Regions from separate parts of the Homo sapiens genome. Here regions 1, 2, 3, 4, 5 and 6 are each linked to region 7. The links come from fine-mapping of genetic effects on gene expression. A gene starts in region 7. Each other region holds a variant in brackets. All regions are shown on one strand. Distances are from middle to middle. Region 1 overlaps DOCK2 (dedicator of cytokinesis 2). Region 2 has its middle 130 kb from the start of SLIT3. Region 3 overlaps DOCK2 (dedicator of cytokinesis 2). Region 4 overlaps DOCK2 (dedicator of cytokinesis 2). Region 5 overlaps DOCK2 (dedicator of cytokinesis 2). Region 6 overlaps DOCK2 (dedicator of cytokinesis 2). Region 7 holds the start of DOCK2 (dedicator of cytokinesis 2).

What was found. PIP is the estimated chance that this variant, and not a neighbour inherited with it, causes the effect.
Region 1: its variant is fine-mapped to the expression of DOCK2 in whole blood (TOPMed, PIP above 0.99).
Region 2: its variant is fine-mapped to the expression of DOCK2 in fibroblasts (GTEx, PIP above 0.99).
Region 3: its variant is fine-mapped to the expression of DOCK2 in whole blood (TOPMed, PIP above 0.99).
Region 4: its variant is fine-mapped to the expression of DOCK2 in testis (GTEx, PIP above 0.99).
Region 5: its variant is fine-mapped to the expression of DOCK2 in whole blood (TOPMed, PIP 0.98).
Region 6: its variant is fine-mapped to the expression of DOCK2 in whole blood (TOPMed, PIP 0.95).

What each region holds. Positions count from the first base shown.
Region 1 is chr5:170,022,065-170,026,530 of GRCh38, reverse strand. All of the region lies in intron 33 of DOCK2 (dedicator of cytokinesis 2), which reads right to left. Among named protein-coding and RNA genes, the nearest start is that of MIR378E, 4.2 kb to the left of the region's middle. The variant G/A (reference allele first, on the strand shown) is at 2,603.
Region 2 is chr5:169,432,200-169,436,665 of GRCh38, reverse strand. No RefSeq gene overlaps it. Among named protein-coding and RNA genes, the nearest start is that of SLIT3, 130 kb to the right of the region's middle. The variant A/G (reference allele first, on the strand shown) is at 2,591.
Region 3 is chr5:170,075,392-170,079,857 of GRCh38, reverse strand. DOCK2 (dedicator of cytokinesis 2) reads right to left here. Exons shown (of 52, transcript NM_004946.3): 47 at 3,774-3,911; 48 at 2,021-2,148; 49 at 712-883. Among named protein-coding and RNA genes, the nearest start is that of FOXI1, 28 kb to the left of the region's middle. The variant T/C (reference allele first, on the strand shown) is at 2,172.
Region 4 is chr5:169,701,907-169,706,372 of GRCh38, reverse strand. DOCK2 (dedicator of cytokinesis 2) reads right to left here. Exons shown (of 52, transcript NM_004946.3): 14 at 3,946-4,070. Among named protein-coding and RNA genes, the nearest start is that of DOCK2, 67 kb to the right of the region's middle. RefSeq lists enhancers at 2,941-3,350, 3,411-3,460. The variant C/T (reference allele first, on the strand shown) is at 2,297.
Region 5 is chr5:169,933,424-169,937,889 of GRCh38, reverse strand. The region is part of intron 27 of DOCK2 (dedicator of cytokinesis 2); the gene reads right to left. The region is part of intron 1 of INSYN2B (inhibitory synaptic factor family member 2B); the gene reads left to right. Among named protein-coding and RNA genes, the nearest start is that of INSYN2B, 45 kb to the left of the region's middle. The variant C/T (reference allele first, on the strand shown) is at 2,812.
Region 6 is chr5:169,769,844-169,774,309 of GRCh38, reverse strand. The region is part of intron 25 of DOCK2 (dedicator of cytokinesis 2); the gene reads right to left. Among named protein-coding and RNA genes, the nearest start is that of DOCK2, 130 kb to the right of the region's middle. The variant T/C (reference allele first, on the strand shown) is at 1,991.
Region 7 is chr5:169,634,836-169,639,071 of GRCh38, reverse strand. DOCK2 (dedicator of cytokinesis 2) reads right to left here and starts at 1,797. Exons shown (of 52, transcript NM_004946.3): 1 at 1,703-1,797. The coding sequence starts at 1,745. RefSeq lists an enhancer at 1,000-1,099 and silencers at 1,360-1,419, 1,450-1,929.

The sequences.
Region 1 (4,466 bases), 390 kb before region 7:
AAGGGGAGCTTCGCAAAGGTCACCAAGACCAAAAGAGGACTTGGGGAGTCCTGACCTCTAACTTGACCTCTTTACACCCGGTCTTCATAATACTTCATGAAGTCTGGAGGTCACGGATCACCTTTAAATGTGACAATGCATGAAGAGCAGCCAGCCCTTGCTTGGTACAACCCTCGGTGTCAGTTATTATTACGGATGAAGAAGTAGAGGCTCAGGGAGTTTAAGTGACCTGTCTAAAGTCTTAGATGAATGGCAGAGACCTTTGGCAGGCTCTTTCCTGGGCATAAAGGATAGAGCTCCATGGAGTTGGAATCTTTAGGTGATGAAAAGGCAGGGACCACATTTGCTCTTCCCTCTGGTTCACACATCATCCGTGATGCCATCGTTCCCTCACTTTTGTGCACAAAGGATCTAAGGGAGGGACCAAAAGCTTGTGCTGATACAGCACAAATGCCAAAGAATTTCCGGTGAGTTGCCTCAGTTGGGGAAGACTTATTGAAGGAGATATACCGGGCCTGGAAAAATGGGTAGGACTGTGATAAATGTGAAAAGGAAGGCATTCCAGATGGGGGAAACGGTGTGAGCAAAGCTGTCGAGGTGGGAACGTGGAGAAAAATGAAGACAGCAGTTCAGCTTGAGCAGAGAAGAATGGATGGACGGACAAATGGAAGGAAGGAAGGAAAGAAGGAAGGAAGGAAGGAAGGAAGGAAGGAAGGAAGGAAGGAAGGAAGGAAGGAAGGGAGGGAAGGAGGGAGGGAGGGAGGGAGGGAACAGACACCTAGATGAGACCCAGTGTGGCAAGAGTCTAGACTGCCAGTCTGCAAATGAATCACGTCCCTTCTATGGTGCATCCTGTCAAGCATTATGTCTGTGTTGAATATTATCCAATGTCAAGGGTTGGGGACTATCATGCTTAGAGATGTCTTCTCTGCCAAGCCTAGAGCAGGAAGAAATACAGCTAAGGGGCTATACAATGAGTCTGCTGTGCGGCTGTCTGGCTTTAAATCCCTCACCGCTTCCCTCTGCCATCTTGGGAAAGCTGGTAGGTCTTTCTAATCCTCAGGGTCAGGATTTAGATCAGGGACTGGCAAACATTTCCTGTAAAGGGCCAGACAGTAAATAATTTAGGCTTTGGAGGCCAGATGGTCTCTGTGACAACTACTGAACTCTGCTGCTGTAGCACAAAACCAGCCCTAGACAACACATACACAAATTGGCATGGCTGTAGTCCAATAAAAGTTTATTTACAAAAGCAGGTGGAAGGATGGATTTGGTCTGTGGGCCAGAGTTTGTCTACCCCTTATCAATACAATGGGCATAACAGTAGTACCTACAGTGTGGAGTAGCTATAGGGCACAGAGATTTTATATGTAAAGCACTAGCAAAGTGCCTAACATTAAGTGTGTGCTGTGTCCCTCGACTTGTCATCACCACTAATGTTATTGTTATTACTGCCGAATGTTACTAGAAAGCAGCGCAGGGGGAGAAAAGTGCATTTTTTCTTGTCTGAGTGGTTCACTGGGAAATGCTGGCATGATTCTTCCTGGTGAGCTGAACTTTTCTTTGGAGCACAGAAGTGGTTGAGGTAAATAAGCACTTGTCTCAGGATCACAAAAGAGCCTGCCAGGAGGGAAATTACAGGGTTCCAGGGAGTGTGTGAGACAAATGATACCATACCACCATGCCTGAGCCCTTGGGGTGAGCTGGAGGGGTAAGGTCTCAGTCAGGCATATCCCAGGGTCAGTACTGTGCTCAGAAATGGCTATGCTCACAGTCTGTGGCATTGAATAGACTTGGTTTGAGTCTTGCTTTGACTTTTTTCCCAGCCCTGTGACCTTAGCCAAGTTAATAAACATTTCTAAGGCTTAATGTGCTCATCTATTAAATGGAGATTTGAAATAGCATCTCCTTCATAGTGGTACTGTAACAAATTAAAGGGCAAACACACGTATAAGGCACTTGGCACATAGTAAGTGCTCAATAATTGTTAGCAAAGCTCATCATGCTATTGTCATTGTCATCATCATAGGCATCATACTCTCATTTAATCTTTACAACAGCCAAGGGAGAAGAATGTCATCATCCCCATGTTACAAATGAGGAGGCTGAGGCAACGTAGGACCTTGGGTGACAGAGTGTAAGACTCTGTCTCAAAAAAAAAAAAAAAAAAAAAGGCTCTCCCAAACATACACTCCATCATGATGCTGCAACAGTCCTTACCCCCAACACTGTCACCATCCAGAGTTGAGGATGTAGCTCTGGCTTCTCCAAATTACTTCCATTTTCATCCACAGCTACATGACTGCATCACATCATTGACTCCTTACCCCACTGCTGCGAGGTGGATGTTTGCTAATGAGTATCCACAGATTTGTATTGAGCCACTACAGAAGTCAGATTCTACAGAGGCCCAATACAAATCTTGAGAAGCTCTAATCGAGAAAGGAGGAGTGGACTCCAGGAGCCCAAACCTTCTGCCTGGGCCTCCCTCTTCCAGGAGACTGGCCTGATATGGGCCTCGTGTTTGCTTCATGCCTTCCCTGCATTGCTTCTCTTGCCTCTCCTGGCTGCTTTAGAATATCTTGGCTATTTTTATCATCTT[G/A]TTCTCCTAGAATGTTTTCTGATTGGAGTCCAGCCCTGTAGAAGTATGAGATTTGGGGAGTGATTGCTCTTCCTCACACGTCTGGTGCTGACATTGACATGGGAAGAGCAGAGATGTTATTAGAGGCCTGGATGTCAGGAAGATGACAAGGATGACATCAACACCAGTAAGTCTGCCTTTGACCTCCTCTGTTATGAAATGCCAGTTATCCTGGGTGGAAAGAAGTAGAGTTGGGAGGAACCTGGAAAAGAGAATGTCACGTGAGAAGGGGTGTCTGGAAGTCAGCGCGGCTTTCTAATTTTGAGTTGTCTCTAATCGTTCCAATTCATCCCCCAAAAGAGCTTGGGATGGGAACCTCTAATGGCAGTTGGATACCCACTTTACAGATGAAGAAGCTGAGGCTGAGAGAGGTTAAATAACTTACCCACATTGATTCAGCTTATAAGAAGTAGGTCTATCTGAATCCAAACAACAGTACCGAGAACGCAGCAAGCACTCAGTACAGATTTATTGAATTGATGTAATCTTTTCCACATTATGTTCTAAACAATTTAAATCACCAGCTTACTCCACGCCAAGATGCAGTCTCAGTGGAATCTGCTAACATGGCTATCTCCGTCTATTAATTAATTCAATGAGCAAAGATTGAGCTCCTACGGTGTTCAGGCACTGTTCTAGGTGCTGCTGTCAGATGCTATCCCCTCTTCTTTCTCTGAGAGAAGAATTCTCTCTGGGATCTCCTGCCTGCTGAGGGCTCAGATCCCCATGCTGACTGGTACACAGTCCTGTTCTACAATCTGCATCTAGCCAACCAGTCTCCAAGGTCTCTATACCCCAGGACTCCCACTCATTCCCACCAATAGCATCCAGAACACCTACATCCCCTCTTTCCACAAAGAATTGGCCAGCAAGACAGCTGGTGTACTCGGGGCAAGGGGATTACTCAAGCAGTCATTAGCAACCCCCATTATTCTAGTTTATAAAAACATTTGCTGGAATGCACCTCCCTGTGCCGATGTGGTTCCCCTGAATGACATGGGATGGGGGTCTAAATGCCTCCATCCATTCATTCTGGGAACACTGACATTGTGCCCACCACGTGCATCTCAGGCACTTGACAGGGACTGGGAGTTCAGGACTGAGAGACCAGCTTTGGCCCTCAAGAGCTCACAGTCTGCTGTGGAACACAGACCTATGAGCAGGTAATTGTGCTGTGTGGGACAAGTGTGATGACCGCTCAATCCAGGCAGGATAGGATACGTTTCATTCTGACTAGCATGTGTCCTGGCCAAGCCGGCCACAATGGGGTCCACCTAAGGCCCTCTTGCTGAAACTGTCCTTCCACAACCCCACCAAGGGAATCATGTGGTGTACCAGGGGTGGGACATCCAGTCCTAGACAATGGACAGAGACCCCCGAGATGGTCTGGGATGAAGTGCTACACTCATGAGGGATAAATGTCATCAGTCAAACCCATCAGCTGTCTATGAAATTTGGGTGAGAGGTGAGACAGGGAAATCTGGCACAGAGCTTATAAAAGAAACCCAGAGCAGAGAAAGAGATTGCCCTGGGGTTGCCTCTTGTTCAGCCCCCAGAACCGTGAGCCACTGAGAGTCTAACACCTTCCTGTCCTAGTTCCAGCCTATGTATACTTGGCTTGAGAAAATCTTTGTCTCTTGTACCCAGATGAACCACTGCCCCAGGAGGCAGGAAAGCCTTTCCCAAAAAGTAAAGCCTCAGCTGAAGGGTGTCTAGGATCTCTTCAGGCAAAGATATAAAAGGAAGAGCCCATACAAAGGCATAAGAGCTAGAGAACTTCAAGAAACTGGCATCAGGCCAGAGGGTTTGGTATGACCTGGGAGCA
Region 2 (4,466 bases), 200 kb after region 7:
TTTCTGTTTGTTCAGATTTGCCTACTCTGGACATTTTTAATAAATGGAATCATATAATACATGGTCTTTAGTTCCCTTTTTATGAACTTTCATAGCTCCCTTTAATTCTCCTTGCATCTCTTATTAGAATTAAAATTTAACATATATATATATATATATATATATATATATATATATATATATATATATATAATCATTCACTTAATGTTTGTTTCTCCCATTAGACCATACAGTTTCACCAAGGCAGGGACTTCATGTATTTAATTGCCATTACTTAACCCAATGCCTGTGCCTCACAGAATAGGCACTTAATAATATTTACACAATAAATAAATGAATAAATGGATTAATGAATGGATGGTTGAATGAATAAACTTGATACTCATCCTACTGCCACCACTAGGATAGATCCAGAAATACCAGTATATTTAGTGCAGTGAAAGGATTAACTTACTTCAAAACTAGTTCCCCATGTTAGGAGAAAGAGAAATAAATATCTATTTAACAAGAGAGAGTGTGGTTTCACATGCAGATGTGTAATATTTGTAAATAAAAAGTAGACTGTTTGTGTATAGGAGTAGAAGAGAGAGACTCAGTAGGCTGGAGCTAAGTTAAAGTAAACTATTTATTGCACTAACTAAGCCATAGTGGGGCTGCTGCCAACTGGTCACAACTGCATTTTTTTGGTTTTGTTTTTTTCTTAAAGGCCTCAGTCTCTGTAAGATGCACGTTGAGTAGTTGGAAAAGAAAGGGTCCTAATGCTCGGAATTTTCTTGGGCATCCTCAACTCTTTAAGGCCTTACCTATCAGTGTTTAGGTTGGATTGTTCTCTGCCTGTCCCTGTAACCAGACAGAAAAGAATGAGAAGGGAGATAAGTCAAACGTATGCCTTGTTACTTGAGCAAGCAGCTTGTAGAGTGGGACACACGCACTCCCTGCTTGGATGACTTCTCGATTCTGGGGTTTGGCAAAGCTGTTGCTGAAAACATTGAACAAAATAAACTGCAAAATATAGAAGGAATGCAGAAAAAGTCATGAAAAACAAATTGGTGATTCATACCGATTATGGTCTAATGGCTACAAGATTTTCCCAGCTTTTATTTGAACTTTTTAAAAAAATCAGCTGCAGTAGCGGCTCTGCTGGTGGTTTGACAAAAAGGGGATTTTCTATAAATAATGAGTTTATGTTTGGGGTGTTGATTCTATTTTTAATAAAGCAAATATCATTTTTATTTCTTTGCTCCTCTGTTGAAGACATAAATTCCCAAAGTAATCCCAGCTCTTAGATGGAGAAAGCATAAAGAATACATACAAACAAAGAGATTATTTCAGAGATGGGTCATTTTTTCTCTTTTGGTCATTCATAAAGACCTCAACAATTATATACAGAGTTATAAATGCCTTATGTGGCACCAGGAGGTGCATAGATATGTTCCTTTTCTTGGGCTCAGCAAATCCTTAATTAGAAATGCAGTGAAATTGATTTCTTGAATGAAGATCTCTATGATGATCCAAAGGTTATAATTTATTTCTTTTGAGACTCAAGATTCAAATGAAGAAGTCATCAGGACCACTTTAGAGAAATCCTGACCAGTGGGGTACTTCACAATATAGTATCGGAAGTGTGTACTCCCAGAATTACTGCACAAAGTTCAAATATCCAACCAAGCTCTAGCCGATGAAGGGATATACACACACCTACCCGGTGTAATCAGTAAAAGGAGACCTGTAGTGTGTGGCTTTACTTCCTTCCTCCCACCCCCCCCGTCAACTATCTCCCACTTGTCTGTAGCTTTTGCTATCAGAATCACCATTTATTTCTAATTTCTTTCAGATAATTCAGTGCCTTCTAAATTCTTCTGATTTAACAACCTGGCAAGCTTGTTAAAATTACAAATTCTAGGTCCCAGTCATGGAAACAGATTCCTCAGAGACATCTCTCTTTTTAGTAAGTGCCCCAGGTGATTCTTATGATAAAACAAATTTAGGAAAAATGAGGCAAATGATAATTTTTCAGTTTCACTTTATGATAGCAGAGTACTTTCATGAAACCCTTTCATGAGTTCTTCACAATGGATCTGTGACAAAAATATTATGTATTCCATTTTAGATAAGAGGAAACTGAGCCTCTAGAAGGTAAAGTAGCATGACCAAGGTCACGTGGGGCTGGCCTTTGACTCCAAATCGCTGGCTTCTTGTCCAGGCCACCTCCACCCCCTACCCCGCCAAGCTCTGCTGCCTTCCCAAAGCTTATGGTGATGATGGTGGCATTGGCACAGAGAAAGTCTTGTGGAAGCAAAGAAAGAAGAGAAGAGAATTATGATGGGGGCTTTGAGAACACCTAAAGGATCTCGAAGAAAGACAAATCATTTGATAGTTGAAGATGAGAGAAGAGAGTAGGTGAATAAAGTCATGGAGATCTGAATGGTAAATTGATCACTGATTAATGGAAAGCTATTGAAAATAGTTAGAGCCTAAGTAGCATTTTATAAATCTCTTCTTTAGAACACTAGTTCTACAAGATACTCCATGAAAGAGGGATTCTGCACTGAAATAAATTTAGGAAACTTGGTGAGCTTCCCTCCAGTGA[A/G]TAGATTCCCAAAGCTCATCTGCATATCGAAGTCTCTGAGAAGTCCTGCGGCAAACACATCTAATTAAAAATTTAACAGGAAATATTCCAAACGTATTTGACTGTGGAACTGTCCCTCCATTTTTCTGTAAAATATGCATAAACAGCTATCTGAACACACTTTGGGAAATGCTGGCCTAGGATAGAGATTTAGAGTTGGGAATATATCCATGGGAGTGTTTAATACTATGTGCAATATTATAATTACACCCAAATAAGAAGTTTAATGTCCTACATTTAGGGTCAAGCTTCTACTAATTTCTTTTCCCTACTTAAAACTTGAGATTCTGTTCTTATGTGTTTTTCTATTGTGTCTTTGCTCATTCTGAAGACAGAGAGGGGAGGGGAGAGAAAGACAGAGAGAGCGAGCATAAAATAAGCAACAGAGTGTGCATTGCTCAAAAGTTTGTGGATTCTTTCTTGTTGCTAACACAAAGCAAGTGTATGGCATGAGAATCAAGTGGGAGTGGAGCTAAGCCCTGGAATGTGGAAACCCAGCCTGTCTGGAGCCCCTGGCTCTTTCCAGGCATCTGGATTGGAGGCCCAGCCTGTCTTCCTTTCTGCCCTTGCCAATCTGTCTCTCTGGGGATGGGACGACCTAAAGGTGTGCCTCACTGATGTGCTTCCTGCTCTTCGTGCATTTAACCGTAATTGAGAAGAGCTCTTGCATTCCGTGGACCTCTTGGGCCCCATGGCTGCCCTAATCACGGTCCATGTGGCCTTTAGTCATAGTCAGAAAGAATAGTAGCAGAAGCATAACTGGGCAGTCTTGCAACTGCATCAGTCTTTCCAAGATGTAGCACTACTCTGGCAAGAATGCGGATGCTATCTGCTCATGGTTATGAGTCCCATATGTCAGAGCCTGGTGGCACCCAGAGATGCCTCTCAGCTTGGGTGGGTAATTGGGTGGAGATGGGAGTGAATGTTTAATAGTTCAGATGATGGAATTAGGCTCACAAAGGGGGTGGGTAGGGGGTTAGGGAGGAATTATCCTCTTCCTCCCTTTATTATTTTTAAACTTAGCCTTTAAGCAGAGAGAAAACTTATTTCAGTTGTTTGTGCTCAGATACTTTGGAGATGATTGATTTCTCAACAGTGTGAGCTTGGTCATTATTACTTAATGGGGCCCTGACTTTGACCTGTCCTAGGTCTGATACAGCAAAAGAACAGTTGGAAGGCAATAGGTGAGAAAGTTTGATTTGGAAGAACAGTGTTTAGAAAAGTGAATTTGTATGCATTCTGAAGGGGTGGTGTACCACTCTCTCACTGTCTCCAGTGGTTTGCCGATAAATATTTAATGACCAACTCTCCAAAAATGAAAAAGTGTGTATATATACACATATGCATACACATGTAAGTTTATTATACATTTTACTGATATAAATGATATGTTGCAAGAAATTTATAAATGATACCATATAAAATACTCTTTATTGCAAATCTCATATAGTCAGTTGATTCTTATGGAATTATTTTGATGATTGCTATCAAACTTTTATATCCACAGATGATCTTTGGTTACAACTGATGAACAAGCATAGTTCCACTATGACTGCTGATGCTTTTGCTTATGTTAACAAATAAGATGAAAATGAAACAATAAAGATATATGTCTAGGATTGCCAGATTTAGCAAATAAATATAAAGGAAACTCCACGTTTGAATTGCAGAGAACAACAACTAAATTTTTAGTATGAGTGTGCTCTGAACAATATTTGGGATATACTTATACTAAAAATATTGGTTATTTGAAATTCAGATTTAACTGGGCATCCTGTCTTGTATCCAGCATCGAAGAACTTCACTTGTTCTTCAGTGACATAACTTCTATGCTGAA
Region 3 (4,466 bases), 440 kb before region 7:
CCTGCGAGGCCCACTGGGAAGTTTCTGGAGGGCCCTTTCTTCACTAAGGCATCTTGGTTGGCCCCTTGCTCTTTCATTTGGCACCCCTCCCTTGCCAGGGCAGTTAATCCATCTCCCACTCCCAGGTTCCCAGAACACTTCCAACAAACCTCTTTTCCAGGGGGAAACTAAGATTGAATCCAGGGCTGTCTGAAACCAAGTCTCATTTTTAAATAATCGTTAGTTTACAAGACCAACACTCTCAAAGCCAGGACAGTGAGATTTCATCCCTGTATCCCCACCTGGACTCCTGGCACACAGGAGGGGCTTGCAGGGGTCTGAGACATCAGTGGTTAGAATAGGCCTGGGGCTGGGGGCTATAGAAACACCTAGCTCAGTACCAAGTGGGCTGCTCTCCCTTTTGGTGGGAGAACAGGTGGATTCTCCCCAGCCTGGAAAAGCCCTGTGTGATGGTGGAAAGGATACACACAGGCTCTGAAGTGCAAAGGTCAGGGCTCAACTCCCAGCTCTGTCATGTCCCAGCCACCCCAGCTGCCTGGGCACGAGTAAGCACTTCACCTCTCAGCTCCTCAGGTGCCGCCTCTGCAATACCCATAGCACCGCAGTGGCAGGCTTCAGGAAGCCCATATCTGGAAGCCCTGGGTTTTGTGCCCAGCATGTAGTGGAAATGTGCTAACAGCGCTGGAGAGGCAATCTGCCTCAGCCACTCACCCGCTTCAGGTCCGACTCTGCAGCTGCTTTCTCATCCGCAAAAACTACGCTGCTTCTCTTTGTCCTCTTCTTGGACCTCCGCAGCTTGACCTCAGGCAGGGTGCTCCCCGGGGAGATCGGTTCCTCCTGCTCCACTCTCGGCGTCTTGGGTGATGCTAATTCCAGGTCAAAGCTGAAAGGCCAGAGGGGCAGCAATAGAAACTGCAGTTAGAGCTTCAGTAGAACTGCCTTGCAAGGACCCAGGAAGCTGAAGGGGACCTTTGGGCTGCCTGAGCTGTCACTACAGGGTCTGGAGTAGATCAGCAAATCTGGCAGAGGATTTGGGGAGCAACTTGCTCAATGCACAAACAGTTAAATGTGATGAGTAAAGTTCACTTTATTTTATTCGTGGTAAAATGAAATTGAAAGAAGTGAGCCATAGAAAAGAAACTGGTGGTGAGGAGAGAAGACTGGTTGAAAGCATGAATGTGGATTCAAATCCAGGCACGGCCAGTTCTTAGCTGAATGAATAACTTTGGGTAAATCACTCAACCTCTTCAAGCCATCATTTCCTTTTCAGTAAATGGAGGTCTTCGCAGAGACCTTGCAGAGTGGCCATGAGATGATGTCTGAGGAACCCTTGGCATATTCTTGGCATATGGTAAGTGCTGGGTTGCTCATGTATCTATGATTAGAACAGATGAGTTGGGCAGGGTGAATGGTGCCCCCTAGAATTGTGAATGATGCCCCCTAGAACTGTGAAACAGAAGACGTTTCCATCCTTTTCCCTCTGGGCAAGAGTAACCTCTGAGGCCCGCAGGGAAGTTTCTGGAGGGTCCAACAATGATGGCCAGAGGGCTCCAGGAAGGTGGAAGGGGCAAGGGAGGGAAGACCCCCGACAGAGGGGTGGGTAGGTGGTGCAGGAGGAAGAGCTCTGCAATGGAGACATCCCATCGTGGTTGGGAGGAGCTTCCTTGAAAGGGAACAGATCCCTATGAGAGGTGACAATATTCCAGAAGGATGCAGGCTTGGTGAGGAGCTCTGCCTGGCTGACAGAGATCACTGGACTAGAAGTCTGGGGGCTGCAGGTGACTCCTGCTGGGTCCTCAGGAAAGCTGCCTTGCCTCTCTGAGCCTCTGATAATCCCCTAAAAATGGTACTAACCATGAGCCTCCTGGGGTAGTTGTGAGACTGCAGATGGGAAAAGGCTTTTAAACTGAAAGGAGGAAGGGAAAGGTAGAAGGGATGTTGCCGGAGAAGAGAGAGAAGGAGGGGGGATAGAGCCAGGGAGGCAGGGGTGTGGGGGGCTCCTTGGGGTGCAGGGACTGACCTCTCTGAGGTAGGCTTGCTGGGGGTGCTGCAGTCAGAATTCATGGAAGCCAGAGAGATGATGGACATCTGTCTGTATGAGCGCAGCATAGACCTGGGACGGCCCACTCTCCTGTCGTCAAAGTCAGGCTGTGGTGGGAGAACAGGGTGGT[T/C]AGCAGCTGTAGCCTGGGGAAGGTGGCCCCAGCCTTCCTGTCACCTTCTTCCTCCACCTAGGCAGGGCAGAGTTGTGGGGCTGAGTGGAGCATCAGCACAAAAGTTCCTGGCTGGCTGAGGCTAGGGCGTTCTTGTAGAATGAAGAATGTGGATGACCTTTACTCCTGGTTCCTGGAAGGTAATATCTAAAACTTTGGAATTTCCTATGTGATAGTAGTATCCTTGTTATTATTCATGGTGGCCCCCTTGACCATACTTGATTTTATGCTAATAAGATGGCTCCTGATGGCCAGAAAGACCAGCTCTATGATTATAGGGCTGGGCTGGGGCTTTAAGCCATGTGGTATCAGCTCAACCTCCAGGGAGTGGACAGGCCCAGAGACTGATTTCCATCACATGGCCAATGGTTCAATCTATCATGACTACATAATAAAACCCCAATAAAAACTCTGGACATTAGGCTCTAGTGAACTTCTCTGGCTGGTAATCATACATCAATGTGCCAGAAGGGGGATGCATCTGGAATACGTGGAAACTTCATGTTTGGGACCCTCCTGGACCTCACTCTGTGTCTCTTTACCTGGCTGGTCTTGATTTGTATCATAAACTGAAATCATAAGTATCATGCTTTCCTGAGTTCTGTGAATTATTCTAGTGAATTATGAAACCTGATGGGGTAGTGGGAATCTCCCAGTTTGTAACCAGTTAGGCAGAAGTGTGGGTGGCCTGGGTCCCTGAAGCTTATGGTTGGTGTTTGAAGTGGGAAGTGTCTAAGACTGTGCTTCTAACCTGTGAAATGTGACCTAACTCCAGGGAGTTAGCACCAGAATTGCATTACAGGGACTTCATGTAGGGAGTATTGAAAGTGACAAACTGCCTCATGGAAAAAAATCTTTGAATCAAGAGACCTGAGTGCATCTGTAGGTTCTTCCAGTAATTCACTTTTCTTCTCTGGGTCTCAGTTTTACCATCTGTAAAATGGGAAGGCTGGACCAGATGGTTTTAAAGGAATTGCATGGCCTTGACATTTTATAACACCAGTTAATAAGGAAAAGGATGAAGAAGCACCCCGTAAGCACCAGGCTCATGGCCTCTTTAGGCCAAGGAGCTCAGCGGTCAAAATCACTGGCCTTAAACTAACAGAGCCAGATGCAAATTCTGCCCCACATTCATTTGCCACATAGCCTCTGGCAAGTTGCCTGACCTTCTGAACCTCAGAAGAAATACAAAGGATTAAAAATCTTTCCTGCCTCTCAGGCTTGTGGTGAGGATTAAATGACCTAGTAGATGTCAAGTGCTTGAATCAGGCCTGGCACATAGTAGATGCTGCATCAGTGTAGCTTTCATTATTATTACACAGTCCCTTGAGTAGTTGGTATCTGCACAATCCAGTTGTAACTGGAGTTTGTCTGGGGGTTACTTTTGCTGGACCAAGTTTCCAGGAGGGTTCCCCTGGATGGGATCCAGCAATGCTGGCCATCATTATCTTCTCTTTGGAAGCAGCTTCCTTTGCTGGATCCCCTCCAACTTCAGCCTCCAGCATGCTTCCCTGCCCCACCCTGCACAATCCCACCCCTCCAAGCCATAGGAACCACCCATACCATCTCTCGGACACCGTACTCCTTCTCCACCTTCATTTTCAGGTTCTTGAAACATTCCTCCATCCGGTCATGGAAGGGTCGCAAGTTATCTGACACCCTTTTCTCATGGATCTTAATCCCAGCTCCCAAGAAGGGGATCTGGAGAGAAAGTGGTAAAGAATGAGCCAGAGGCTGACCGGTGGGCCTCAGCCTGGCACCCCGCCCATCAAGGCAGCTGCAGTCAAGTCTGCCTGCTAAGAATTCATCAAGGGCTTCAGGGTCCTCAGAAACCTGCACACACGGTCCCCAGCCATGGGAAATGGGGAAAGTTGCAAACATGAGGTTTGCTCTGGAAAGGAGAGAAAGACCCCCAGCTTCCCTTGCCTCATAGGAGGGCTGGACTCCCCTCTTCCCCATGAAAGGCCACATGGTTGGGAAAATTGCCCCCTTAAAGAATCTACTTGGGGGCAGAGTGTGGGGATCAGAGGAGGGGAATCTCTGTTGCATTGATTTAAAACCTTGCCTAAGATGTTCTTGGCAATACTAAAGTGAAAGGATGAATGTCAGAAGCTGAGAGATAGAGGAAGGCAAGAGCTGAGAGAAAACAGAGGAGGGGGCATAGCCTCATCTTACCACATGGAGCCAATTGCACTTCATACAGCTGCTGAAGAAGGATATGAATGTGCTAATATCATAAAGTTAACCCCCCAGTAG
Region 4 (4,466 bases), 67 kb before region 7:
TTCCTTCTATAAGAACCTAGATGCCTTCCAGCCTACAAAGATTTATATCTGTTGACATTTATGGGCTTAGAGTTTCTGTAGTTACAGTAAATCCCATGTAGCTTACCAAATCAGAAACTACACATATATCTCTGGTGAAAGTAAAACTGCCGCATGGCAGGCAACTGGATCTCACAAAACTGTACTGATGATGAAAATTTTTGATTTCCTAAGGCTGGAGAAAAAAGTCTCAGTACCAGTCAGAGAAAAGCCAAAGATAGTGCCATAGGCCTCAGCACTTCAGAGAAATAACAGTGTTGGGAAGTGCACTGAGAGAGCATTGTGACCAGGGACTGAGCCCAGTTCTAGGGAAAATATACACTGGTATATATCTCAAATAACACTGTTCCATAATTTTCTACATTGCCTATCCCCATGGCCCCCAATTAACAGTGAGAGCCCCTCATAGGTGTGGGAGACTTCAGGTCAGTTGAAGAAAATCTGAGTATGGATCAGGAAGCCTGGAGGCTTTCATGTTGGCTTGGCCTTAGAAGAAACATCTCTGCAGGAAGAAAAACCAGGCTCCTAACACATGTCCTGTTTACTTGGTAGGAATCAGGTGAGAAAGAGATGACACCAGGGATGTGAACACACTTTAGGAAAGACAGTGTTCTCCTCTCACAAGACCACATCATGGGATGTCGATTAGCATGCCTAAGGTAGGAATCAGGCTGGGAGCTCAGTATACCCTTCTAATAATAATAGCTAAATTTAATGCACACCTATTATGTAGATTACCTCATCTGATATTCACAAGAGCAAAGTGCCATTGCTGGTCCTATTTTCAGACAGAGACTCTCAGGCTTAGAGAGGTTATGTAACTGCCTCAACATCCTCTTACTAATTCAGGCAGAGCTGGGCTTTGCACCTGGCTGTCTGGCCCCAGGGGTCATGGTCTTAACCACTATCCCATACTTCCCCTATCCCCTGCCTCCACCGCCTCAAGTTGGGTGGTCTCAGAAAAACAGAGGTTTCTTGGCCCAGCATCTAAGCCTTTCTCTTTCACCAGAATTTGCTTCTGGCTGGATTGCCTGTTTGACTCCCTCAGGTCCCTCAGAGGGCTTCACCCTGCACTTGGTCCTCTTCTCTGAATGTGACCCTCCTTCCTGTTGCTGGGTACTTACTGCAATACCAGGTGCCTTATACCTATGGCGTGTTTTGTCTGTTTGTTGAGAAAGGGTCTCACTTTGTCGGCCAGGCTGGAGTGGCTGGGGTGCGATCTCAGCTCACTGCAACCTCTGCCTCCAGGGTTCAAGCAATTCTCGTGCCTCAGCCTCCTGAGTAGCTGGGATTACAGGTGCTTGCCACCACACTCAGCTAATTTTTGTATTTTCAGTAAAGACAAGGTTTCACCTTCTTGGCCAGGCTGGTCTCAAACTCCTGACCTCAAGTGATCTGCCCCCCTTGGCCTCCCAAAGTGCTGGGATTACAGGTGTGAGCCGCTGTGCCCAGCAGCATGTTTATTTTTAAAATTTTTTAATTTTAAAATTTTTAATTTTTGTGGGCACATAGTGTGTGCATACACATACACACACACACACACACACACACACACACACACACACACACACACATATATATGGAGTAAATGAGATGTTTTGATAGAGGCATACAATGCATAAAAATCACATCATGGAAGATGGGGATCCATGTCCTCAAGCATTTATCCTTTGTGTTATAAACAATCCAATCATACTCTTTTAGTTGTTTTAATACCTACTCTTTTGTTTAACCTGCAACCCCACGAGAAGAGGTTATTATTTCTTTTTACACATGAATAAACTTGCCTAAGATCACACAGCTAATATGAGGGGAGGCTGGAATTTGAACCCTGTCTGCCTGACCCCAGAGCCCACCCCATTAGCTTCTCTGCTATGACCCCTCCTGAGCAAGGCCCTTGACACCCCAAGGTGAGCCATGAGCAGGCCTAACCTCCTCTGCCCTCTGGTCCTGCTCTGCCAAAGACAGTGTGCATGCACCTAGAGCAGGAGGAGAAATCAATATTTCTAAAGGGGACCATTTCCACAGGAGCCCACCAATATCAAACAGAAGTGTTTGAATGTACTGACTGACACTTAATTAGGCAGTAATATTTATTTCTACAAATAGAGAAAGAAAAGCCTCCCACAGGCTTCCTAAGCAATTTTCAATAGTCAGTCAACTGAACTCCCCCAGAATTTCCCTAATAGAGGAAACCACAAATCATCACCATGCCCCACAGTTCCCTTTCCATGTCAGCCCCCAGAATACCTGCTTA[C/T]CTACTCATCTTGGATAAGTGCATCTGCTCAGCCTGCTCGGTAGTGACTTGAAAGGGTGACAAAAGTGGAAGAAAGAGTGGCTCAGACAGGAGATAAGATGGCTGCTTGCCTGTTAACTGTGTCTTTTAATTTGTCCTTTGGCAACATGGAAGGTAAGCGTATCAATGTTTCAAAAATGAAGCTGAGGTTAAAAAGTTCTCTACCAGGGAAGTTGGATAAAAGTAACTTCAAAGCAATGGTCTCTACATTTGGGAATTGCAATTTCCCTTTCAGATAAAAACCCTCCGCTCCTTTATGTTCCTTTGAGTCAAGTATTTCTCACTTATTTTATTTTTTGGAAAAAGTTTCAGACTGCAACAAAAGGAGGATGCGTTCAATGCTTAGATTTTGTTCAAATAGATACTAATTAACATGACCAGTCTTTATGAACAAAAAGGCAATTGTGAGGATTTCTTTACATTTAAAAAACGATTATGAATCTTCCCAAATTTGCCAGCAGTGGTTATTAGCCTCATTTTTTAAAATGAGAAATAAATTGGAGAATTTTGCTACATGTACGGGCATTGTAGTGAAGTGTCTCAGAGGGCCTGGAACCAGTCAAACCCCATCTCTGACATATGCTAACATTATGGCTTTGGGCGAGTTACTGTAAGTGACACGGGTTTTGTTTCCCTATCTGTAAAATGGGGCATAATAAAGGAAATGTGTCATACTATCACACAGCCTGACACATGGTAATTCCCCTGTGAATGTTAGTTATTCTTGGGTACAAAGTATCAGTCTGATCTCCAGGCCCCAAGGACAAAAATGATGCCTCTTCCATCTTCACATCCCCTCTCTGATGAACACACCCGCCCTGCTTGGCTATTTGATCACTCACAGTGGCCTAAGAGGAATATTCGCCCATGCTAAAATTTCTCCTGAGAGCTGATTTTCTTTTCAGCTAACTACTCTGTCAGGAGGAACTGAGAAACAAAACCCTCCTACACACTGGACACAGCACTGACAACCTTAAAGAAAATACAAGCAAATAAATATAAACACACATGACAAATATTGGACAGGACATATGCTGTATAAATATAGCAATGCGCTTTGCATTCCTGAATACACCCTGCTAGCTCTCTGGAGACCAATTTACGAATAAGGCTTTCCACCAGCATTTCTGGCTGAGCGCTGGGGAGTTAGATTAAGTGTTGAGAATGCCTGCTTTAAGCACATCCTGAGCCTCCACACCAGCCCAAGGCACTGTATTGATCCTCTTTCTTACCATGGACTTTGCCTGAATAAACCAGCTCAGGTTTCAGTGAGAACATTTTAACTGCAGAAAGCTAACCTATAAGCTGAGACCAAGCAAAAGTAAATAAATAAATAAATACATACATACATACATACATACATACAAGAAGAAGTTGTGAAAGGAAAGGAACAGACATTGAAAAACTGCTTTGGTGTAAGGAAATATCACAAGGTCTTATTATGGAACACTGCACTAACCAAGCTCAAAAGGTGTTGAACACATTATTCAACACCATCCCAAAGGCACCTGGCATTTAGACAACAGAATCAGGGAGAGGAAAAGTACGTCTTTACAAGCAGAGGCCCCCAAGGCGGACCCTGTCACCCAGAGCAGCAGTGAGTCCCTTACAGGCAGCGTTTTGCCATCCTCCGCGCACACACACATGATGACTTCCACATTCCTCTGTGTGGTCTTGTTGTACTTGTCAAAGTCACCTTGTAAGAGAGTAATGTAGATGTCGTTCCTGACATCCCCTGAGGCAGAGGGAGAGAGAGACAAGAGTTAGTGTGGATTACAGCAGGAGAGACGCTGACTAACTAGAGGGGATGGAGGGTGAGAAGAAGCTCTCCCACCTGGATTGGTATTAATTAAAATCAGAATTGCTTAGAGAAAGCATTTTTCCCTCATCAGGGAGGCTGGAGAAGTAGGTAACACGGGGATGAAGGGATGCTAGGAAATCAGTTGCAAAAAGGGAAGTAGGGACACTCAAAATTGGCCATGTTTTTCTCGACATTAAAAGTCATTTAATTTTCATCCTCTAGTGACACCTTCTGGGAAGGCAAAGGAAAGCTCCAATTGAATTGATCCTGTCCCATGAAAACAACCAAACATATACATCTGCCGATATTTCACTGTGTAGGAGCAGAATA
Region 5 (4,466 bases), 300 kb before region 7:
TGGAGAAAGGGACCCACCACTCACGTGAGAGAAGAAATATTTGATTTCAGTGTTGTCAGTGACCAATAGAATGATCCATGCCTTTAGGTCTAGGGTCCAGGGACAATGAGGACCCTCAGGACCTTCCCTTGAGCAGCTTGCCAGCCAGGAGAGCAGTTACTACTGGGCAAAAGTGTTACTAAATGAGAATTTAGAAGAATAGACAAAATAATAATAAATACTCTTTATCCATTTGTAAAATTAAAATAATTATATCTCCCTCATAGGTTGTTATGGGATTAAACAAGTTAATATAGATAAAGAACTGAGCACAGAGTCTAGAACATATAAGTACTCAATATATGTTCCTATTATCATTGCTTTTACTAATCTCATTAGCCTTTTATTGAACACTTACTATGTGCCAAGCACAGATAAGCGTGCAGCATCTTACCTAATTCTCACAGTCTCAGGAGATAGTCTTTGTATCATCCCTATTTTACACTTAAGAAAATCATAGGCCAGGGATGTGGGAAGTATCTATTCAAGGTTGCACACCCAGGGAACCATAGATCCAAGGTGCAGCCCAAGTCTACGGGTTGGCAAACTTGTTCTCAAAGGGTCAGATTTTTTTCTTAAAGGGCCAGATAATAAATGTTGAAGGCTTTTCAAGCCATAAGGTCTCTGTCACCACTACTCAACTCCTCAAATTTTTGATGGTGGTTTGAAAGCAGCTCTGGACAACTATACAAAGAAATAAGCATATCTGTGCCGCAGTAAAACTTTATTTACAAAAACAGGCAGCTGGCTGGAAGTTTGTTGAAGGAGTCACCTACCAATTACTCTGCCCAGAAACTGGTCAGCCCCTCCCTCCTCACCAAATACCCAGCCTCTCCTCCACAGTGTTCAAGCTACCATTTTTGCAAAGCAGTGGCAGGAGAGGTGGTGGGAAACCCAGTCTGGGATTGAGAAGCTTTGTTTGATTTTTCTGTAAGTATGTTTGAATTATTAAGTGTCTGGCTCATTAAGTGAAGGGTGTCGTTATAATTCTATCACAAGAGACAAAATTGTTATTTAAATTGAGTTTTGTCAATTTAGCTAATTTACTAAGTGGGCATTGCCACGTCTTAATTAGTATCCTCTGATCAGAGATTATTCATGAGGACAGTGCAGTGTTGGTGCACCAAATCTATATAGGCTGGAGCGCGCCCCCCAGGAGGAGGTTTTTGCTCTCTGGGGAATGCTAGATTCTGTAATGGATCAGTAGCCACACTGGTTTCTCCAGTGAAATCCAAGGATCTGCTAATTCATAAAAAAAAAAAAAAAAAAAAAGGAGTCTGAGAATCACCAATGATTCTCCCCAACATGCCCATCGAAATACACACAGGATAGAATAGATGTGTTTATTCATTTTGATTATCTTATAATCAGCTGTTTCCCTCCCTGGGTACTGGATCTGCTATTGACTAGCTGTGATACCTTTGAGAATCACTTCACTTCCTGGATCCTCAGTTTCCTCTCCTAAAATGGCCAGATAAGTTCAGAGTTTGAGGATGAGGAATAACCGTCCTAAAATGTTTTGCCCTAGGAACCCACTGCCCTTGCTGCAGCCTAGCCCCATCTCTGTCGTTGAAGCACGGACATTATCTTGTCTGTAGAACCATGCACGGAAGTGTTATCACGCTTGGGCCTCAAAAATGCCTCTGCTTCTATGGATTAATTCTGTGTGTAGTCAAAATGCAAATATTGTTGATTTTGTTCTCCATCTCCTCAAGGGCAGACAGGTGGTTTTGTTACATTTTCTAACAAGTGGGGAACGATTTTGTTTTTATTGGCAAAAATACTTAGGAAACAGAAACAGACTTCTTTACAGTTGTTCCCCCCACCGCCATGCCACCTCCCCAAGAAAAAATTTATGTTAACTTCCTAAAGGCTGTGTACCTGGCCTTTTATTAGTTGTGGTTAGAGACAGGAAACTGTAACCATTTGAGGATGTAGCTGATAGAGAATGTTGTTTTCTTCCTGCTCTGTGGAGTAAATGCCATTCCTAATTATTATTTATCTGTAGGACTTTTGAGTTATAATGTCTCGTTCTACCAGAAATGTCTGATTTTTTATATTTTTACACAACGCGTTTTTTCTCCTATGAAGTCAGTGTACTGTGCACAACTTGACAAGTTTTAAGACATAATGTAGCAGTTGAAGCTCTAAGCAAAATAGCACAGTGATGAAGGATGACTTCACCGCATCGGCAACGTTCATCACCACCTCACTATGAAGACCTTCATTTCACCGCAAAGTAGGTAGGACGTGATAAAACTCCGACTTCTCCACCAGCATGTCTTGGTGCTGGCTTCTTAATAGTCTCCCAAACCTTGACCTGATATCCGAATGGCTGCTGTCCAGAGGTGGCAGTGGTTTTAGAAATCAGCTCTCAACCCGAACTCCACCATTAAGTTGACAGTTCAGCATGTCAGATTTTGGTGACTTAGCACACAAGAAGAGAAAGAAAGCTAGGGCATTCTAGGCCTCTGCGATGGTTCCATGGGAGCAGAAGGGCGCAAGTGAGATTCAGTTTCCCTACACAGGCATGGGAGATGAGACCTTTTTTTGGTCGAGTTAAAGCTTTGATCTGATAATGTACAAAAGAGAGGATCTTGGCAGTGACTCACAGCAAACAGTGTACAAATTTACTCAGAAACGGCAATGGCATGCTGCTCTGCAGACTGTCTTTATACACAGCTGCTCCCTCCAATTAAGAGGGCTCTCCACAGTGCTGGCCAGTCCTTCTATCCAAATCTTGCCACGCTGTCTTCACTGCTGCTTAGCTTC[C/T]TGCCCACGTGGACTCCCTCTCCAGTGCTCTTTCTATTAATTTTCCCGCCTTCCCAAGAATCTTAGATGGCTGCAGTCAGTATGTTGGCTGCTAACGTTTGCATTCTAGCTGATATTGTATCCAGCATAGCACAATCACTTTCTATACTACTTTCTCAGGTCATTGTTGTTTAATCAGAATAAATATCAAGTGTAAGGTGGTTAAAGTTGTTTTGGCAATGTATAATGCTTTATTTACCTATTTGCAGATGACACTACAATCAATTTATCATACAGATAATAATGAAACTAACAATAAGGATTGCATGATAACTAGCATTTACTGAGCACTGATCCCGTGAGCAGCCCTGTGCTAACCCTTGGCAGATACTATCACATTTAATACTCCGTAGCACCCAATCGGTTCAGTCCTATCATCAGCTGCATCCTAGAAAGGAAGGAGACAAGACTTAGCAAGGGGAAGTATCTTGCCCAAGGTCAGACAGCCTGGAAGCAAAGAGCAGGATTTAGATCCAGGTGTGTGTGAATGTAGCGCATACAATTAGGCTGGAAGAAATGTGGGTGCTGATAAGCATTCCATCTCCTAGCATATGTGCATGCACCTCTTACTACAAAACCAGTGTGGTGTGGGCACTGGGGACACCCTGCCCTTGAGGGTTTGTGATTCACGGGCATGCGGATAGGTAAATTAGTGGGAACAACACAGGGTGGTATTGGCTATGATCCACTCCGGGGACAACTACCAAAGTACCTAGGAGGGGAATGCAAATCAGCCCAGGAAATCAGAGAAGTCTTCCCGGGTAAATACAGTAGAAGGGACTCTTCTTGTTCCAAGGAATTCACAATCCAAGTCCACTGTTATTACGTGAACAATAAAGCAAGTGGCATAAGCCCCGCCCCAGTACCTGATTACTGCCAACCCCTAATTGGGAACACTCAACCCCCTGCCTCAGCAGTTCTCAACCCCACAGCTACCTCCCACAGACATGAGGTGTGCTACAAATGTGACCACTGATCAATGAGCAGTATGGATCAAGGGAAGATTGGCATGCTCTGCCCTAAATGCTTAAACCTAACATTAGCAATAGATGCCGGTCCTGCTGAGTGAAGAAAAAGACAAAAAGGCACATGAGGTTCCTAAGTCAGTAGCATTAATGGCGACACCAGTAGTTTGTTCAGGAAGTGCTGCATGTCCCCTGGAGCACGCTCTGTTCATTTCTCTCTGGTTACAGTAAGTCTGGACGCCAGCCACCCCTCATGCATTCCCCACCTCATAAATCTGCATGTTGAAAGAAATCCAAGAAGGGAAGGCAAAGGTTGGCAGCTGCCTGGAAGTCTGAGAAGTGGGTGTCTGACCCCAAAACTGCTTGAAGGCTGATACACACAGGTACTCTCTTAGTGCGGCCAGTAAGGTCCCCTGACTTCTACAGCTGTTACTCCTCACAAGGAAGGAGGCCGAACGAAGGAAGAAAAGGGAAGGAGCTGGACTAAAGATTCATTGTTTCTGAAAAGTGGGCAAATAAGCAGCCTCCTTCCCCAGGTGAATGCAGTATCAATATTAACAACAAAACACAGTTCTGAATTTATTTATGCAGACTCTTGATGCTCAGGATAATGACTGATTTACCAGAAAGAGCTCTTCTATAGCAGCCACT
Region 6 (4,466 bases), 140 kb before region 7:
TTAAATAAGTGGTGGCCATACATTACTTATTACTGTATTTTGTTAATAGTCCCCACAGTACAGTGCTGCCACAGTTTTAGATTTTTAATAAATATTACTTGAACTGAAATGAATCTGCAGCAAATTTTCAATTCAACTGTATTGTCGTCTTCAGGAAATTTCCTTCTATTCTAAGATGTTGGGGAAAAATAACCTAGCAAAATCAAATTTCAACAGATCAACATAAAAGTCTCAGGATGCTTGTATTAGCCCATTTTCACGCTGCTGATAAAGACATACCCAAGACTGGGTAATTTATAAAGAAAAAGAGGTTTAATGGACTCAGTTCTATGTGGCTAGGGAGGTCTCACAATAATGGCAGGGGGCAAAAGGCACGTCTTACATGGCAGCAGGCAAGAGGGAATGAGAAGCAAGCGAACGGGGTTTCCCCTTATAAAACCATCAGATCTCGTGAGACTTATTCACTACCATGAGAACAGTATAAGGGAAACTGCCCCCATGATTCAATTATCTCCCACCAGGTCACACCCACAACACGTGGGAATTATGGGAGCTCCAATTCAAGATGAGATTTGGGTGGGGACACAGCCAAACCATACAAACATTCTAAAACCCCACCTCAGCATAATGGGAATCATTCATGATTGCAATTTCACAGTGAAAACAAAATTTTGGAGTAAATGCATAACCTTATAAAGATTTATATAAATGCCCTCATTATGTATGCTTCCATTAATGCAAAGAATCATTCCAAAACTAGATAAGAATCCCATGGAATATAGTTTGAAAGATATGAGAACAGAGTGATTTTGTTGTTCTCTATTTTTAATGAGGTAAATTACACACACACACACACACACGAAGAGTTTATTGAGTTTATTTACATTGCTATTAAAGAAGTGATCGGGAATTTTTTTCTCCCCTAATTAAATTGTAGTTCATAAGGCCATTGAAAGCTGCTATTCTAAGTATTTTTGGAAGTTTAAGACAGATTTTTTTCCTTGATTGTATGCCAATTTTTTTTAACTTCAGTGCACCCTCACCCCCAACAGACACTTTCATAAATCTCTCTTGGACTTGTTCTGCAGCACATTAAATCACTGTCTTCTCTGATTCTGGATCTGAAGGTTTCTCTCTGAGAATGAAGTCTGCAATCTGTCACATCAGAACAGGAAGAGAGGATTTGAGGGAGAACCCCTTCTCAGATCTCCAGAGTGTGGAAGGGACGTTTTGGTGCTGGCTATGGCTTTGTGACACTGCAGTTGAAACGGGCAAAGTGGGCTCCTCACTTGAAGAACTTTGATGCCTCTAAATGCTCTGATGAGAAAAAACTTGTCCTCAAAATCGATGGTACTTTCTTGAAGAAATGAAACGCTCCAGCACATGAGGCACTGTTAAATGACCAGCTGTGTAACCTCGAATGCATCATGTAATTGCCCTCCATTCACTTAAGGTTCTATAAAATGGCCTCATCCCTTGCCCCCAGCTGAGGCAGGATGCTGAGACGTACTGGGGGAATGCTTCTCAATACTTCTCAACACAGTATTGGGAGAATATTTTTCAATGGGAAGAGGAGGGTTTTTAAGGCACTAAATGGTATTATGTGAAAAAGATTCAGAATTATTATCACTGTGAAGCAGAGGATGACTTTTTTAAAACATAGATTTTCATTGTTGGTGGAACACTACAAAATCTTGTTCAGTGTCATCATTTACAGTTGTTCTACAGAGGTTAAGGGACATGCCCAAGATCTCACAACTGTGCACTAAATGAGATAATATACCTAACTGTTTAGCACAGTGCCAGTGCATAATAAGCAGTCAATAAACGTCAGTTGCTGTTGCAACTGCTGATGTTGTTTTTACTATGATTCAGGTCTCCTCACTCCCAGTTCAGTGCTGTTATTATCAAATACAAAAAGAAACTACAGGAAGGTAGCTTTATGAGCCCAAGCAATTTCTTACCATAAGGAAAATTATTTCTTTCATAA[T/C]TGAGAAAGTGCAAGCCGAGAGAAGGTAAGTGCTATGCCTTGGCACATAATTCCCAGGATGCTAACATCACACTGAAGACTAATTCAGGGGCTTGACTGGAGGAGGAGAGGCTACTCCTTTTTCCTAATCCTTCAGCTCTCAGTGAGCGATAGCACAGAGAACCTGCATGTTGTGGACCAGAGACTGAATCCAGTCTACAGCAACCCTGTCCTCAGCACCGGAGATTGAATCTAGGCTATAGCAACTCAGCCCACAGCCTGTAGGAAAGAGCAATGTCCTGAAAATGCAAAATGACACTGGCATGGAGAAAGGAGAAACTGTCCAGCAGATGAAGCTGGGAAAGAGGTGTGGTCAAATGGGAAAAAAACAAAAATGAAAGACAAAAATCAGATTCCTACTCACACTATATATAAAACATAAACTCTGTAGATAAAGGATTTATGTATCAAAACTAAAATTATAGAATTCTTAGTAAAAATAATGAACATCTTTTAGACTTCAGGACTGAGAAAGATTTCTTAAGGCACACACAAAAATTTGACTAAAAAAACATTGATTTGATTGTGTTAAAATTAAGAACTTTTGCTCATGAAAATGCATCTTAAATAAAAAGACAAGGTATAAACTGGGAGAAGATATTCACAATACATAAAATCAGCAAAAGATAAGTAGAAAGAATATATTAAATATCCTATAGATCAATAAGAAAAATACAACCAATCTGACAGAAAGACAAAAGGCCGGGTGCGGTGGCTCACACCTGTAATCTCAGCACTTTGGGAGGCCGAGGCAGAGGGATCACAAGGTCAGGAGTTCAAGACCAGCCTGACCAACACGGTGAAACCTGTCTCTACTAAAAATACAAAAATTAGCCAGGCGTGGTGGCACACACCTGTAATCCCAGCTACTCAGGAAACTGAGGCAGGAGAATCGCTTGAACCTGGGAGGCAGAGGTTGCAGTGAGCCGAGATCACGCCACTGCACTCCACCAGCCTGGGCGACAGAGCGAGACTCCGTCTCAAAAAGAAAAAAGAAAAACAGTCAAAAGACATGAAAAGACATAGCAAAGAAACAAAACACGAGTGGCAAAGAAAACAGAACAAAGGATTTTCAGCATTACTGGTGATCAAGGAAATGCAACTGAAGACAGTGATGATGTAGTCTAAGCCCATTTTAGTGGCAAAGGTTAAGAAGTAGGGCAATATCCAGCATTAAAGAGACTGTGGCTACACAGGTCCACTTCGGCATTGCTGGTGGGAGTGTAAATTGGTACAACCACCTTTGGAAAAGAGTGTTCACTATCTCCTAAAGATTCTGATCCCTTATGGCCAAGCAAATCTACTAGTAGTTCTATCCCCAAAGGAGACTCTTGAACATTTACAACAAGAGACATGTACAAGAATGTTCTTAGCAGCAGTGCTTTCAATAGAAGAAACACTGACACAACCCAATGCCTGAAATTGAAAGCATGAATGAACAAATTATGGCTTATTCACACAATGGAATTTCCTACCGTCATCAAAACAATGAACTCCAGCAATCAGTAATATGGATGATTCCTAGTTTAATATTAAGTAAAAAAAATAAATTCCTTCAAATTATCAACAGTTCAATACACTTTTCGTAAAGTTCAAATAACTAAAATACTGGGAATATATATAAATGCAATACAACTGCATGAAAAGGAAAGCAGTGGAATGATTAACAAAAGATTCAAGAGGCTGGGTGCAATGGCTCATGCTTGTAATCTCAGTGCTTTGAGAGGCCAAGGCAGAAGGATCACTTAAGCCCAGGGGTCTGAGACCAGCCTGGGGAATATAGGGAGACCCTATCTCTACAAAGTTTTTTTTAAAAAACTTCACCAGACATGGTGGTATGTCCCTGTAGTCCTAACTACTCAGAAGCTGAAGCAGGAGGATTGCTTGAGTCCAGGAGCTCAGGGTTACAATAAGCTATGACTGTGCCACTGTGCTTCAGCCTAGGTGACAAAGCAAGACCCTGTCTCAAAAAAAAAAAAAAAAAAAAAAAGACTCAAGAATGTGGTTACCTTAGGTGGGGAAAGGCAGTCATGTGGTTACACGTAAGTGATTGTTAACTTCCTAGCTTCTGTTTTGTGTGGTGAATGCATGGATGCTTCATTTGTTATTAAAAATAATGAATAGAACATTTAAATAAATAAAAGCATGTCTTGTGTGGATCAATAATAAGATGTATTTTGAATTAATGGCCAGGACTGCTCCAGCTCTGTACAATTGAGGTCTGTTCTTTTCCTTTTCTTAAAGGGACACTGGCCATTGAATAATGCTTTTACTACCGAGGTCCACAGACCAGCCTCTGAGAGCTGGTATCAGTAAGACCAGGCACATAAACGTGTGTATAGACCAGGAACGTAAATAAAACAAAACTTACAACTTCCCTTATCCTTAAGGAGTTCATTCCATCAGTATAGACAGTCCCATAAACAGAGAATGCTAG
Region 7 (4,236 bases):
TTGGCACTCAAAGCCCTTCACAATCTAGCCATAATCTACCTCTGAAATTTTTTTAACACTAAAAGCAATACTAAAACCAAAACAGACTACTTATTGTTTGACCCACACACTTCAGGGATGCCAGTTCCCTGCCTTTACCCATGATGTTCCCCTTCTAGATGCTTTTCTGGTGCCATGCAAAGGGCCTAGGGTCTGAAGACAATTGAATTTAAGGCCCGCTCCATTGCTTCCAAGTGATGTAAACTTGGTTACTTCACCTGTAAGTTGGGAATAATACACTGCCTCACATGGGGGTTCTGAAGTCAGACAGAGATTGCATGACCTTTGGTCTTGCAAACCATGAAATACTACAGTCTCATAAGGCATGACTGTCCTGAATCTGGCATTAGGGTGCATCTTGGTGCTGGTGTCTCTTGGTTCTGAAGCTGCTAGGTAAGACCCTGGACCTGAATCACTAACTCTTATTGAGCCAGCACACTACTAAATGCTTTCCATGCATAACCCCATTCAATCCTCACAAGAGTCTCATGAGACCTGCATTATTATTACTTCCACTTTATAGACGAGGAAACAGACCCTGATTTGAACTCAGTTCTGACTTCCCAGTCCAAGCCTCTAGCCTTACACATAACTCCTCAAGGGCAGAAGCTGTATCCTTCCTTACTTTGTAACTGCCCCTTGAGATATGAATTATTATTTGTTCTCTGGATGGGGACCATTTATATCAAAATGACCCCACAGTGCCCGGTACCCAGTAATTGAGTGGATAACTGCTGATCTCTCCAGGGCAGTGTTTCCCAAACAGTGGCCTGGGGACCCCCTGCATCAAATCCCTCTGGGTGTTTGGGTCTTCCAATGCCTCACCTGCGAAATATTTATCTCTGAGATGGTGTCTGGTATCCGCCTGTGTAGGAAGCTCCAGAGTGACTTTTTATTTGATATTTAAGTTTAAAAACCACAGTGAGTCCATGGAGATTGCACCACGGATGACACTTAGAGTAGCAGCACCTGAGGCCTCCCTTCCCCCAGCCACCACTTCCGCCCCTGAGCTCCAGGCAGAGGCTTCTGGGAGTTTAGATGGCTGAGGCTGACGAAGCTAGCTTCTTGGTTACCCTAAGACCACCTGGCGGGAGCCTTTTTCCCCAGAGGCTCTGGGGGGCTGAGTAGAGAACCCCACCGTCCAGCCCCATTCCCCCAAGCTTGAGCTGCCCTCTGGATGCCCTGCCAAATCAGGAGTCATCTGACCCAGGAGGAACAGACAGGGGAAGCAGGCAAATGGGTGTCGCTTTGGAGGGGGTGGAAGTATGCATGGTGGGCAGGCCAAGGCTGAGCCAGGGGAGAGTGGAGCTCCCTCTACAAGGCCAAGTCTCCCACGCGGCGAGCTGGGGCACTCCTGGGGACGCCGAGTTTGGCGCGAAGAACTGAGTTGTCAAGCGCAGGTCTTGACCCTATCTCGGAAATGTCTAAGGTTCCCTCAGCAGGCGAGAGGGCGAGGGCTGTGCTTAGCCTGCGGGGTGGGGTCCCGCCGTCCTCTCCCCGAGCCTCGGCTTTCCCGCCCCGAGGCCCCGCCGCAGGCTGCGCCCTCTGACCTGCAGGCAGCGCGCCCTGCCCACCCCGCGCCGCCGGCCCCGCAGCATCCTCCTGCTCGCGGCTCTCCCGCCACCTGTCCCGCTCCCTGCCGCGCCCTGGGGCCCGCACCTACCCACGCCGTGCCGCTCCTTGTCAGCTTTGCGCCAGGGGGCCATGGCTGGGCCGGGGCCTCGCGTCCTCCCGTGGGGAAGCCGTCAGGGGGTGGCTGGGCGCCGCAGGGCCCCACTTCCTTCCTCTTTTCAAACTCCTCTCAGGGCCCGCCCTCTCCTCCCTCGCCGGGGCTCCCCGCTCCCTCCTCCCTCCCGTTGGGCAGGGGCACACTAGAAGGCTGGTGCCCCGTAGGCTAAGACACGCCACCCCACCCCACTTCACGCAAAACTTGGGGACCACTCCCACTTTGTCTCCTCCCCAGGCGAGGGAGCAGAGGCCAGTCCCCACCTGGGGCTCGCCAGACCACCACCGCAAGTGCAGAGAGTTTCCTGATTGCCGTGCCTAGGGACTGAACAAACCTCCTTAACTCCCCTCAGCATGAGCTTTGGTGTCAGATCTCGGTTCGAATCCAGACGGGGACAAATGACTTCATTTTTCTAAGCTTCAGTTTTCTCATCTGTGAAATGGGATACTAATACCTACTTCATATGATTATTGTGAGGGTTAGAGAGACAATGTACACAGCAGGTGACATGGAAGAGTAAATGTTTACCTGGAGGTGGATCCTTTACAGCCTTTTTTTTTTTTTTTTGTGAGACGGAGTTTCGAGTTTCTCTCTTGCTGCCCAGGCTGGAGTGCAACGACGCGATCGCGGCTCACCGCGACCTCCGCCTCCCGAGTTCAAGCGACTCTCCTGTCTCAGCCTTCCCAGTAGCTGGGATTACAGGCATGCACCAGCATGCCCGGCTAACTTTGCATTTTCAGTAGAAACGTGGTTTCTCCATGTTGGTCATGCTGGTCTCGAACTCCCCACCTCAGGTGATCCGCCAGCCTCAGCCTCCCAAAGTGCTGGGATTACAGGTGTGAGCCACCGTGCCTGGCCCATTTACAGCTTTTTATCGTTTTGGTGCTACAAACCCGTTGGAAAATCTGATGTAAGCTCTAGAAGCTCTACTCTGAAAATACGTAAATACACTATTTACCAACATCACTGCAAGGTGAAGGGTGCTGTCACAGCCAGCAACAGTGGGACCCAGGAAAAGAGCCCTAGAGTTAGGCTAATGGAGACATTTCCTCGAAAAATCTCATTTTTGCTCTGAGAACAGATTCTGTCCAAAAAAAAAAAAAAAAAGTCTGATCCACAGTGATAAGGCTGAATTTAAGTTTTGCTGAGTTTTCTTTCTTTATTCATGACTCTCACTACCCCTTTCTGCCTTACACTGGAGAGTCATTAAGATAGATTAGGCAATATCACAGCTGAACTGGAGCAACAAAAAATTATTGATTTTGTTTTATCTGCAGTTATTTTCTTTTCTGTTTTCTAGCAGCACAAATTAGGTAATAATGTCTTATACAGTCAGCAGTGGTATTAGGGTTCCACCAGATGACCAGAGTAGGAGATTTTATATATATGCATACATATATATACATACATACATATATGCATATATATATACACATACATACATACATATATGCATATATATACACATACATATATGCATATATATACACATACATATATGCATATATATATACACATACATATATGCATATATATATATATATATATACACATACATATATATGTATATGAGAGACAGAGAGAGATTGGGGATTGGCTAATGCGATTGTGGGGCTGTCAGGAAGAGCAGTTTGGAAACTCACAGGCAGATGTCCTCAGGAGGAATTTCTTCTTTTTCAAGGAACCTCAGTTCTATTCATAAGGTTTGTCAACTAATTGGATCACACCAACCAAATGTATTGAGGATAATCTCCCTTAATTAAATTCAATGTATGGTAGATGTTAATCACATCTACAAAGTACTTCACAGCAACCCCTGTGAAGATTGTGAAGATTGGTATTTGATTGAATAACTGGGCCATAGCCTTGCCAAGTTGACTCACAAAACTAGCTATCACAACAATGTTATAAATTGGGACTATACAATAGAGGATGCCAAACATTTTCTGTAAAGTCACAGATAGTATTTTAGTCTTTGCAGTCCAGAAAGCAAAATCAAGTATATATGTAGGATGCAGGTACTTATGTAAAGAAAGAAAAAAGGTTCTAAATTTTTTTTATTAATAAAATTCAAAATATCATGTGAATGAGTATTTTTTGTAATACTAGCTTAGTAAGGCAAAAAAAAATACATTTTGGGAATGATATCACATTTCACCTTATTGGAGTTCAAAGTTAATGTGCCTTATCGAAATTGATTCAAATATTCATATGTTAATGCTGATCTGACAGGATATTTACTTTCTATTTCTGAAAAAAATGTTTACCAAATGGGCAATGGTTAAAAGTCCAGAAAAGCTAATAAAATTAACCTTTGATACCACTGATTCAATAACATCACAGATTTAGATATTTTCCACAAAGTACCTGATGGTGAATATTACAATTAATAATCATAAGCTTTAAATATCTTATATTTTCACCCACCTTCTAAATTTGCTCCAAAAGCCTTCTTCTGCTCCACAGATATT